Regions from separate parts of the Homo sapiens genome. Here region 2 is linked to region 1. The links come from fine-mapping of genetic effects on gene expression. A gene starts in region 1. The other region holds a variant in brackets. All regions are shown on one strand. Distances are from middle to middle.

The links. PIP is the estimated chance that this variant, and not a neighbour inherited with it, causes the effect.
Region 2: its variant is the best candidate, but not a certain one, in a credible set for the expression of BRAT1 in whole blood (INTERVAL, PIP 0.57).

Annotation. Positions count from the first base shown.
Region 1 is chr7:2,552,861-2,557,236 of GRCh38, forward strand. BRAT1 (BRCA1 associated ATM activator 1) reads right to left here and starts at 2,664. Exons shown (of 14, transcript NM_152743.4): 1 at 2,627-2,664; 2 at 1,445-1,587. The coding sequence starts at 1,571. RefSeq lists a silencer at 2,419-2,658 and an enhancer at 2,571-3,248.
Region 2 is chr7:2,507,416-2,511,791 of GRCh38, forward strand. LOC107986759 (a long non-coding RNA gene) reads right to left here and starts at 1,656. Exons shown (of 3, transcript XR_001745066.2): 1 at 1,315-1,656; 2 at 590-702; 3 at 1-209. RefSeq lists enhancers at 346-1,201, 548-1,075 and silencers at 721-874, 3,969-4,018. The variant G/C (reference allele first, on the strand shown) is at 2,515.

The DNA of each region.
Region 1 (4,376 bases):
CCAAGTAACTGGGACTACAGGCGCCCACCACCACGTCTGGCTATTTTTTTTTTTTTTGTATTTTTAGTAGAGACGGGGTTTCACCATGTTAGCCAGGAGGGTCTTGATCTCCAGACCTCGTGATCTGCCTGCCTCGGTCTCCCAAAGTGCTGGGATTACAGGCTTGAGCCACCGCGCTCGACTGACACTATTTTTTTGAGACAGAGTCCATTCTGTCGCTGGAGTGCAGTGGCACGATCTGGGCTCACTGCAACCTCCGCTTCCTGGGTTCAAGCGATCCTCCCCCTCAGTCTCCCAAGTAGCTGGGATTACGGCGCATGCCACCATGCCCGGCTAATTTTTTTATTTTTAGTAGAGACGAGGTCTCACCATGTTGGCCAGGCTGGTTTCGAACTCCTGACTTCAAGTGACCTACCCGCCTTGGCCTCCCAAAGTGATGGGATTACAAGCATGAGTCACCGCGCCTGACCTATGACACTACTTAAAATGATGAAAAATGAGAAATATAAACATCTGACAGTGGAGTGATTCAATTAATTATGGTCTATTCCTACAGCAAATAACATGTAGTCAATAACATTAACATATTATGTGGAGAAAACACTCACTATGATAGCAAGAGAGAAAGCAAGACACCAAAATTGTGTTTACAGTATGACCTCATTTTTTTTTCCCCAGAAAAATACAGCTTTATGTGTTATGAAAAGGCTGGGAGTAAATTAAAACGTTGATGGTTTAATTTTCCTCTTTACTCTTTTGTTCATGTTTTAAAGAACATGTATTACTTTGTTTTTTTTTTTTGAGACAGGGTCTCACTCTATCACCCAGGTCAGGGTGCAGTGGCACAATCATAGCTCACTGCAACCTCTACCTCCCGGACTCAAAGGATCCTCCCATCTCAGCCTCCAGAGTAGCTGGGACTACAGGTGCGCCACCAGGCACAGCTAATTTTTGTTTTTTTTTTTTTTAGAGATGACGTCTCGCTATGTTGGACCAGGCTGGTCTTGAACTCCTGGACTTAAGCAATCCGCTCGCCTCAGCCTCCCAAAGTGCTGGGATTACAGGTATGAGCCACTGCATCCGGCCCCTACTTTCATAATCAGAAAGAAAACAAATCTGATGTCTTAAACACACTAAATACAACGAGAACAACAATAAAACAAGTTTGTTCACGCCTTCTGTAGAACTGAACCTTGGGGTGCCCTGATCGTGGCTCAACTGGCTGAATTTCAGGCTCTAACTCTCCAGATCATTCTCTCGGGCTTCATCTTAACTTGCCCTCAGTCTGCCACAGATAATCCTTAGGAAGTGAAGGAAAGACATCTGATTGGCAGTTTCTGCCCTTCCTCCAGGACAGGGGAGTCCCCATCTGGCCCCTGCTCCCTGTCCCAGCCTCTGCGTCTGGTCTCTGGATAGGCAGTAAACAGCAGCACCACCTCCTTACCTCCTTCAGTGACCGTTTTAAACCAGTCCAGGAGCTTCTCCAAACAGGTGTCATCTGCCACCGGCTGCCTGGGATCTACCAGAACAGCACAGAGAGCCGGGAGCAGCTGGGCGCATTCTGGGTCCATGGTGAGGCCGCAGGCCCTGCAAAGGCAATGTGAGAGCCAAACCTCAATGCCCACTCCAGACCCAGCTCGCTCTAGTCACAGCAGCCCACCATGCCTGCTCAGGCCTGGGAAGGGGCCCCAGAACTTTCATCTCAGACCAGGAGAACCATGATCCCCAGACCAGAGGTCTGTACTGCAGGGATGGATGCAAAGCTTTGGTCTAGGTGGGGCCCTGAGCGCTGGTGGCGGGGCTGAAAGGGGCAGATGAGGGTCTAGCTGAAACCACAAGGCCTCCGGAACTCAAAGTCTGTCACCCTTGGTCTTTGGTGCAGTCGGGGCAACAGCGTGGTGCTGGCCCAGGCTGCAGGTGGGCCAGAGTCAGGGGCATCTTTGAGTTCCGGGGTCAGCCATGTGTGCAAGGGGATGTCTACCCATGCCCCAGGGCCAGCCTGGGCTGGAAAGTTTCTGTCCCTCCCAGCGTCAAGTGGTGGCTGCATTTGACGTCCTGAAGCCAGCAGGGGGGTGCGGAGGGGAAGGGGCGCCTGTCCGTGTGTCTGTCCCTCTCAGGGTCAGTGGTGGCTGCATTTGCTGTTCTGCAGCCAGTAGGAGGGTGAGGAGGGGAAGGGGCACCTGTCCGTGTGTCTGTCCCTCCCAGGATTAGTGGTGGCTGCATCTGAAGCCGGCGGGGGGGAGAGGGGGGCGGCGGGGTGCGGAAAGGAAGGGGCGCCTGTCTCTCCCAGGACCAGGTGTGCATCCGTGCGTCCAGCCTCGGGGGTGGGCGGGGTGGTCAGCGGCTCTGTCTAACCGGGGCACCGTCTGCCAATGCCCGGGAAGGCTGCGTCCCGGGAAGAGGAACCCTCCCCACACTTTGAAGTCAGTTTTGGCCGCGAGCGCCAGGCCCGAGAGTCCAGAAGGGGCGCCAGAGCAGGCGGCCACAGTCGGGCTGGGAAGCGAGCCCAGGTCGCGCACGCCCCGGGCTGGGCTGCTCCCTGGCCCGCCCGCCCCCCTCGGCCGGGTCTTGGCCTCCCCGCGCCCCACTACCACGACCTCGACCCCCGAAGGCCCACGCGCCTCACCGCTCGGTTGCGTCCTCCGCCGCAACCACCCCTCGCCCAAGGCTCCGCCTCCGGACAGTGCCACCTGCCAGGCCCGGAGGAGGCGGAGGACGGAGACGGCTGGCGTGGGGAACTGAGACTGCACCCCTGGAGGCCGCTCTGGAAGCCTCGAGGGCCCAGACTTGAAGGAAGGAGTTCAAGCTGAGAGGGGCTGGGGACAGGCAGGCGCCAAGCCGGTCGCTCCGACAGATCACCCCCGCCAGGCGCCTAGTGGTTCATGCCGAGCATCCGGTGGGTGGGCGGGGCGTCTCGAGGGCGGGGATCTCTGAGGAAGGCGCGGGGTTGTGTCCGGAGGGGCGGGGCTTCGCCTGCAGGGCGCCCAGTGTCTGCACCGGCGGGAGCGAGAAAACTATGTGCCGGAGAGAAGCGTCCTGATCCGTGCACCAAAGCCCTTGGTCATTTAGCTTCAGGTTCTCAAATTAAGTCCTCCGCGGCCGCGCTGTGGCTCATGCCTGTAATTCCAGCCCTTTAGGAGGCGCAGTTGGGAGGATTGCTTGAAGCCAGGAGTTGAGACCAGCCTAGGCAACAAAGCGAGACCCCATCTCTTAAAATTTAAAAAAAAAAAAAAAAAAAAAAAAAAAGGCCAGGCGTGGTGGCTCACGCCTGTAATCCCAGCGCTCTGGGAGGCCCAGGCGGGCGGATCACGAGGTCAGGAGTTCGAGACCAGCCTGGCCAACATGGCGAAATCCCGTCTCGTCTCTAATTTTTGTATCTCTAAGATATCAAAATTAGCCGGACGTGGAGGCGCGCGCCTGTAATCCCAAGTACTCGGGAGACTGAGGCAGGAGAATCTCTTGAACCTGGGAGGCGGAAGTTGCAGTGAGCCAAGATGGTGCCACTGCACTCCAGCCTGGGCTACAGGGCGAGACTCCGTCTCAAAAAAAAAAAAAGAAAATCAGCCAGACCTGGTAGCATGCGCCTGTGGTCCCAGCTACTCCAGAGGCTGAGGCGGGAGGATCGCTTGAGCCCAGAAGTTCAAGGCTGCAGTGAGCTATGATCCTGCCCCGGCACTCCAGCCTGGGCAACAGAGCAAGACCCTGTGTTTTAAGAAAGCAAACAGGCAGAAAAACTAGGTCCAAAAAATTGAGTTCAAAACACTAACTGTGTGTTCGAGAGTCTCAAAGCCAGTGGATAGACAAGGCTCATGTTCCCAAAGCATTGTTTTATAGCAAGATTGTTGGGAGCCAACACCAGATTTAGGAAACAAAGCAGAATTCCTATGGATATTAAAATTTAAAAATTTAAAAGCACTGACTTTGCTGGGTCACCTTTATTTTATTTATTTATTTATGGAGACGGAGTGTCACTCTTTTTGCCCAGACTGGAGTGCAATGGCTCAATCTTGACTCACTGCAACCTCCACCTCCTGGGTTCAAGCGATTCTCCTGCCTCAGCCTCCCGAGTAGCTGGGATTACAGGTGCGGGCCACCACGCCCAGCTAATTTTGTATTTTTAGTAGAGACGGGGTTTCACCATGTTGGCCAGGCTGGTCTCGAACTCCTGACTTTAGGTGATCCGCCCACCTAGGCCTCCCAAAGTGCTGGGACTACCAGCGTGAGCCAACGCGCCCAGCCGTGCTGGGTAACCTTGGAAAAGCAACTTCCCTGACGCTTGCATGCCCCCTGCACACACACACACACGTACATCCTTAGAACTACATGTGTGAAAAAGTTTGAAATGCACAGTTATCTTCCCTGAAATTTGGTTCCTC
Region 2 (4,376 bases), 45 kb before region 1:
TGCTTGTCTGTCCCTCCTCGGCTACCCAGGCTTGCCCGGCGTTCTCCACCCACTTCTCGCATGTTATCGCGGGACCCCCTCGCGGAGTTGTTTGCTGGCCCTCTCTCTCCCTGCCGGCCGCTGGGATGCTGTGAGTTCCGGAGGGCAAAGCTGGGTCTGTGTGGCTCCTGTCCCATCTCCAGTGTCCGACATCACAATGATATTTCCAGCTACAGGAAAGGGAGAGTTCGGTGGCTGCGCGGGGCTGGCCAGGGTGACCCTGAAGATTCTCCTGCCTGAATGGCCCATCCGTTTGCCCGATGCCGGCCTCCCTCTACCAAAGGCCTCAGCAGCAGCTGCCTCTCAGCCCCCAGCCTCTGCCCCATGCCTAGAGGAGTCACCAGGCCTGGCTCTTGGAGGACACACCCAGCCCAAATGCCCTCTGCTCCTAAAGCAAAGCTCAGTGGGGCCCAGAGTGGCCCTCCGGCAAGAAGCCCCAAGAGGATTTCAGGGCAGCCATAGTCACAAGTGCCCTGACCTGGGAGGGGCCCTCCTTGGGGTCTAGCCCCATCCTGCCAGAGCTGGCTGTGTGCCCCTAAGCAGACCCTACCTGTCTCTGGGAATATGTCCGCTGGGTCCAGGGAGCAAGTAGACAGCCTCCTTGCTCCACCTGCTCTGGAGACAGAGGCCACTGGGATGACAGCAGAAGTCACGGAAGGCTGCCTGGAGGAAGAGGCAGTCACATGTTAGGATGAATGCAAACACTGGGGAAGCTGACCCCACTTCTTGAAGCAAAACCTTCCTGATGGGGCCCAACCTCCTGTCCAAGGTTGCCGCCACTACGCTGGGCAGAAAACATGTGTTAGGGCCATGCCCCAGCCCGAGCGAGGCCTGGCCCTGGCCTCCCACCTTGGCCTGTTCGTCTTACCCCCATCAAGCAGGAGGCCAGCCCGACCCGCCTCCTCCTTCCGGAGTCTCCAGCTGTACAAGGGGAGGGAGCCATCTCGGGGCAGCCGGGTCGGGCTCTGGGTGTGTGCACACAGGGACACACGTGTCCCTGCACATGGCCAGCCCACATGTGCAGAGTGGCAGCGCGCCATGCTCCCCACGGGCTCACCCGTGCTTCCGCACACACGCGTGAAGCACGTAAGCACCGCACGATCACAGGCCCCTCTCGCGCTCCGAGGCATGTGCCGGCCGGCATGCATCCTGCCAGGGAATCTGCGTCTCTGTCGGTGACATACTCCGTTTCCTGCCACAGCCCTGGTATGCCCCAGGAGTAATTACTAACAGAGTTCCCTCCCAGCCTTGAAAGACGATATACTATGTGGTCACCTCTGTCTGGGCCACCAAGAGGATCCCAGCTGGGCTTTTGCTGAGCGGGGCACAAAAGCCATCAGGAGCCAGTCTTGGGGACTACAGCTGGGGGTCGGTGACCTTGATCAGGCCCAGGGAGGCTGAGAGGAGTCTCGCCCACGCTGCACCCACAGCCCCGCTCATTCCACACCTGAGTCTTCAGAGAAGGAAATGCAAGACCGTGCAGTTAGGACCTGGAATTGTCAGCCTGTCCCCATCCTGCCAGCGGGGATTGGCCTGTGGTTTTGTCAGCTGCCAGCCAGCGGCTGAGGACCAGCCCTGCAATCTGAGTGGGGGCCTGTGGGAGGATGCAGCTGAGGGGAGTGGCGAAGCTGAAGAAACTCTCGAGAAAGGTGGGAGGGGCCGGGGCAGTGTCAGGGCCGCTGTGCACATCCGTGCAGGTCGTGCACTGACTGGCAGCACACATCTGAGATCCAGCCCGTGCTCCGCTCATCGGGTTGTGAAGAAGCAGTACCTCTTTCCAAGCAGTGGCCCAGGCAGTAAGCGGAGCATCTGGCAGGCGGGGTCCACACTTCCCCAAGACCCTGTGCTGGCTGTGGCTGTATGTGCACACTTCTACATGACTTGCAGGGTGCCCAAACGGCCCGGAGGAGGCCGGGACCCCAGCCCCCAGGCCAGGGCTCCCGTGAGTAGGGAGACGCATCACTCTCTGGCCCCGGAGGCTGTGCTTCCCAGGCCATCACAATGGCCACACAACAGGGGCCCTCAGGGACGGAACCTAATCTTGAGCTATTGAAGACCTGAAAGCCGTGGCCCCTGGCCCGAGCCAGCAGACGCGCCTGCCGGCCCCACCAGAGACACCTGATCCACCGGTCGCCCCGCCACAAAGGGGGACACTGTCCCCCCAGGGCCGCCCGCCCCACCAACAGAGACAAGGAGGAAAACTGGGTCGCTGAGATAGAGTGACAGCCATGGCAGGTGGGGATGAGACAGGAGGGAGGGGCGGCCACCACTGGGCACAGCCCAGCCTCTGGGGATGCCCCAGGCCTGAAGATCTGCCCGAGGGGGGCTCAGAGCCCCGAGGAGGGCTCAAGTGACTGCCGGTTTGCAGGGAGTGGGGTGGAGGCTGGAGTGGGGGGCGCAGCTGAGACCAGAAAGAAACAGCTAGGACCCCACCTGAGGCTGGAGACACAGCCAGGACAGGGGACTCTCCACCCA[G/C]AGAGACGCCATAGGCCAGGTTGTTGGGGACAGGCCTGGACTGGTCCCCAGGCCCCACCCTGCTGAGGCAGGCCAGCCAGCTGCCCACCCCTTGGCCTGGGCATGTCCAGCTTTTGCTCAGTTTCCCAGCCTGGCAGGGCTTTCCGAGGGGTTGCAGGGAGAAGCAGGCCTGGCCAAAAGACCGCCATGCCTGAAGGTTCACCTTCACCCCCTGGCACCACCAAAGACCCCGCCCAGGGGAAGTCTTGGAGCCTCAGCGCCTCAGAACTTTGGGACTTCCTGGCATATGGGAGGCACCCGGAGGTGTGAGCCTGAGGGGTTCACTTTCAAGGGTGGCTGGAGACACCTGCTGCTGGCCATGTGGGCCTGGGAGGCCTTCTGGGGCCTCCATCTTCCCATCTGTGAAATGGGACTTGGACCTAGATGCTCTTCAAGGTCCCTTCTTCCAAGTCTTCTGGCAAGAGCCAAGTCCAGGAAGCTCAGCTCCATTGCGTCGGCATCTGGACTGAGTACTCTGTGGGTGCCGGGCTGTGCTGAGGGCTGGACGGGACCCAGGAACAGACAACAGGTAGAGTGGAGGAGGGAGCAGCGAGGAGACTTCCCACAGGGGTGGAGACGCTGAGCACTCCAGGCAGACACAGAGGGGCGGCTGGAGTGTGGGGATCCTGGGCCTGGCAGGGCCTGGGGGGTTCGGCAGGCAGAGTGGGCCAGGGGGTGGCCTGAGGACGCCAGGGGCAGAGCCAGCCCTCCCAACTGGGCAGTGGGGAGCCAAGGGAGGGTGGCAGAGCCGAGCCCCATCTCTAAGATATGGGGACAGCCCTCAGAGCCAGCTCCCACCCAGCTCCAGCTCAGGACAAGCAGTGGGCATGGAACTGAGATGCAGGAAGGCCGAGGTCTGGAGACGCACGTGGGCTCCCCGAGGTGACCTAGGGGTGGGCGGCCCTCAGCCCTGCCCGGAGATCCCTGGTCCTACTGAGTCAGCCACCGGGGAGAAGATAAGGGACCGCCAGGCTCTTAAGGGGCCTGACGTTGCTGTTGGGTGAAGTGCCCGCCCAGAATGACCTCAGAGGCTGCCGGGGCCACCTGGCATATCACCCTGCCCGTCTCCGCAGCTTCCTCTGGCAGTGGGTGGATGTATAATGTCCGCCCGCTGCCAGAGGGTTCACGGCACCACAGCCCTGCTGAGCCCTGCTGAGCCCCAGCTGGGTCCGACCTCCTGGGTACCCCAGGGACGGGGAGGCCAGGCACGGGGGTTGCTGTGCGGGTTGGACAGTGGTGATGGTGGACAGAGCCACTCCCAAGAGTGTTAGAGACCTGGGGTGGGGGCATCCAGGCAGACCACCCTCACCCCACCCTGTGGGACCCAAACCAGCTCACTTCCCTCTCTGGGCTCAGCTTCCTCATTTGCAAAATGAGGCCAAGAGTCACACCCGGCCCGGCCTGTGACCCCGGAGCCCCCTCCAGCCTCCTGCCTCACTCTGGCACCAGGCCTCCCTGCAGCTTGCAGAGCAAGCGGGGTACCGTCTCCCCGAGGTGCAGCCTGGGGGGCTGTGGCAGGTGATGGGAGCAGCTGTATTTGAGGGCAGGGTCTGTCGGGGAGCCCCCCAGCGTGGGGAGAGGAGGAGGGACCAGGGAGTGTAACCTGGCAGCCCGCAGCAGTTCCGGCTGCTGCTTCTGTCAATACGGCCTTCCTGTTTTGGAGATTAAACCCCGGCTGAGCAAACAGCTTTCCAGGCGGCCCCTCCCTCCACCCCAGCCCCAGCCTTGTCTTCAGGTCCTAAGGCTGGGACCACCTGGAGGCTGTGGGGGTGGTGGGGGATGGAGGGGACCAAGCTTTGCCATCCCTGCCCTCACCAAGGCCT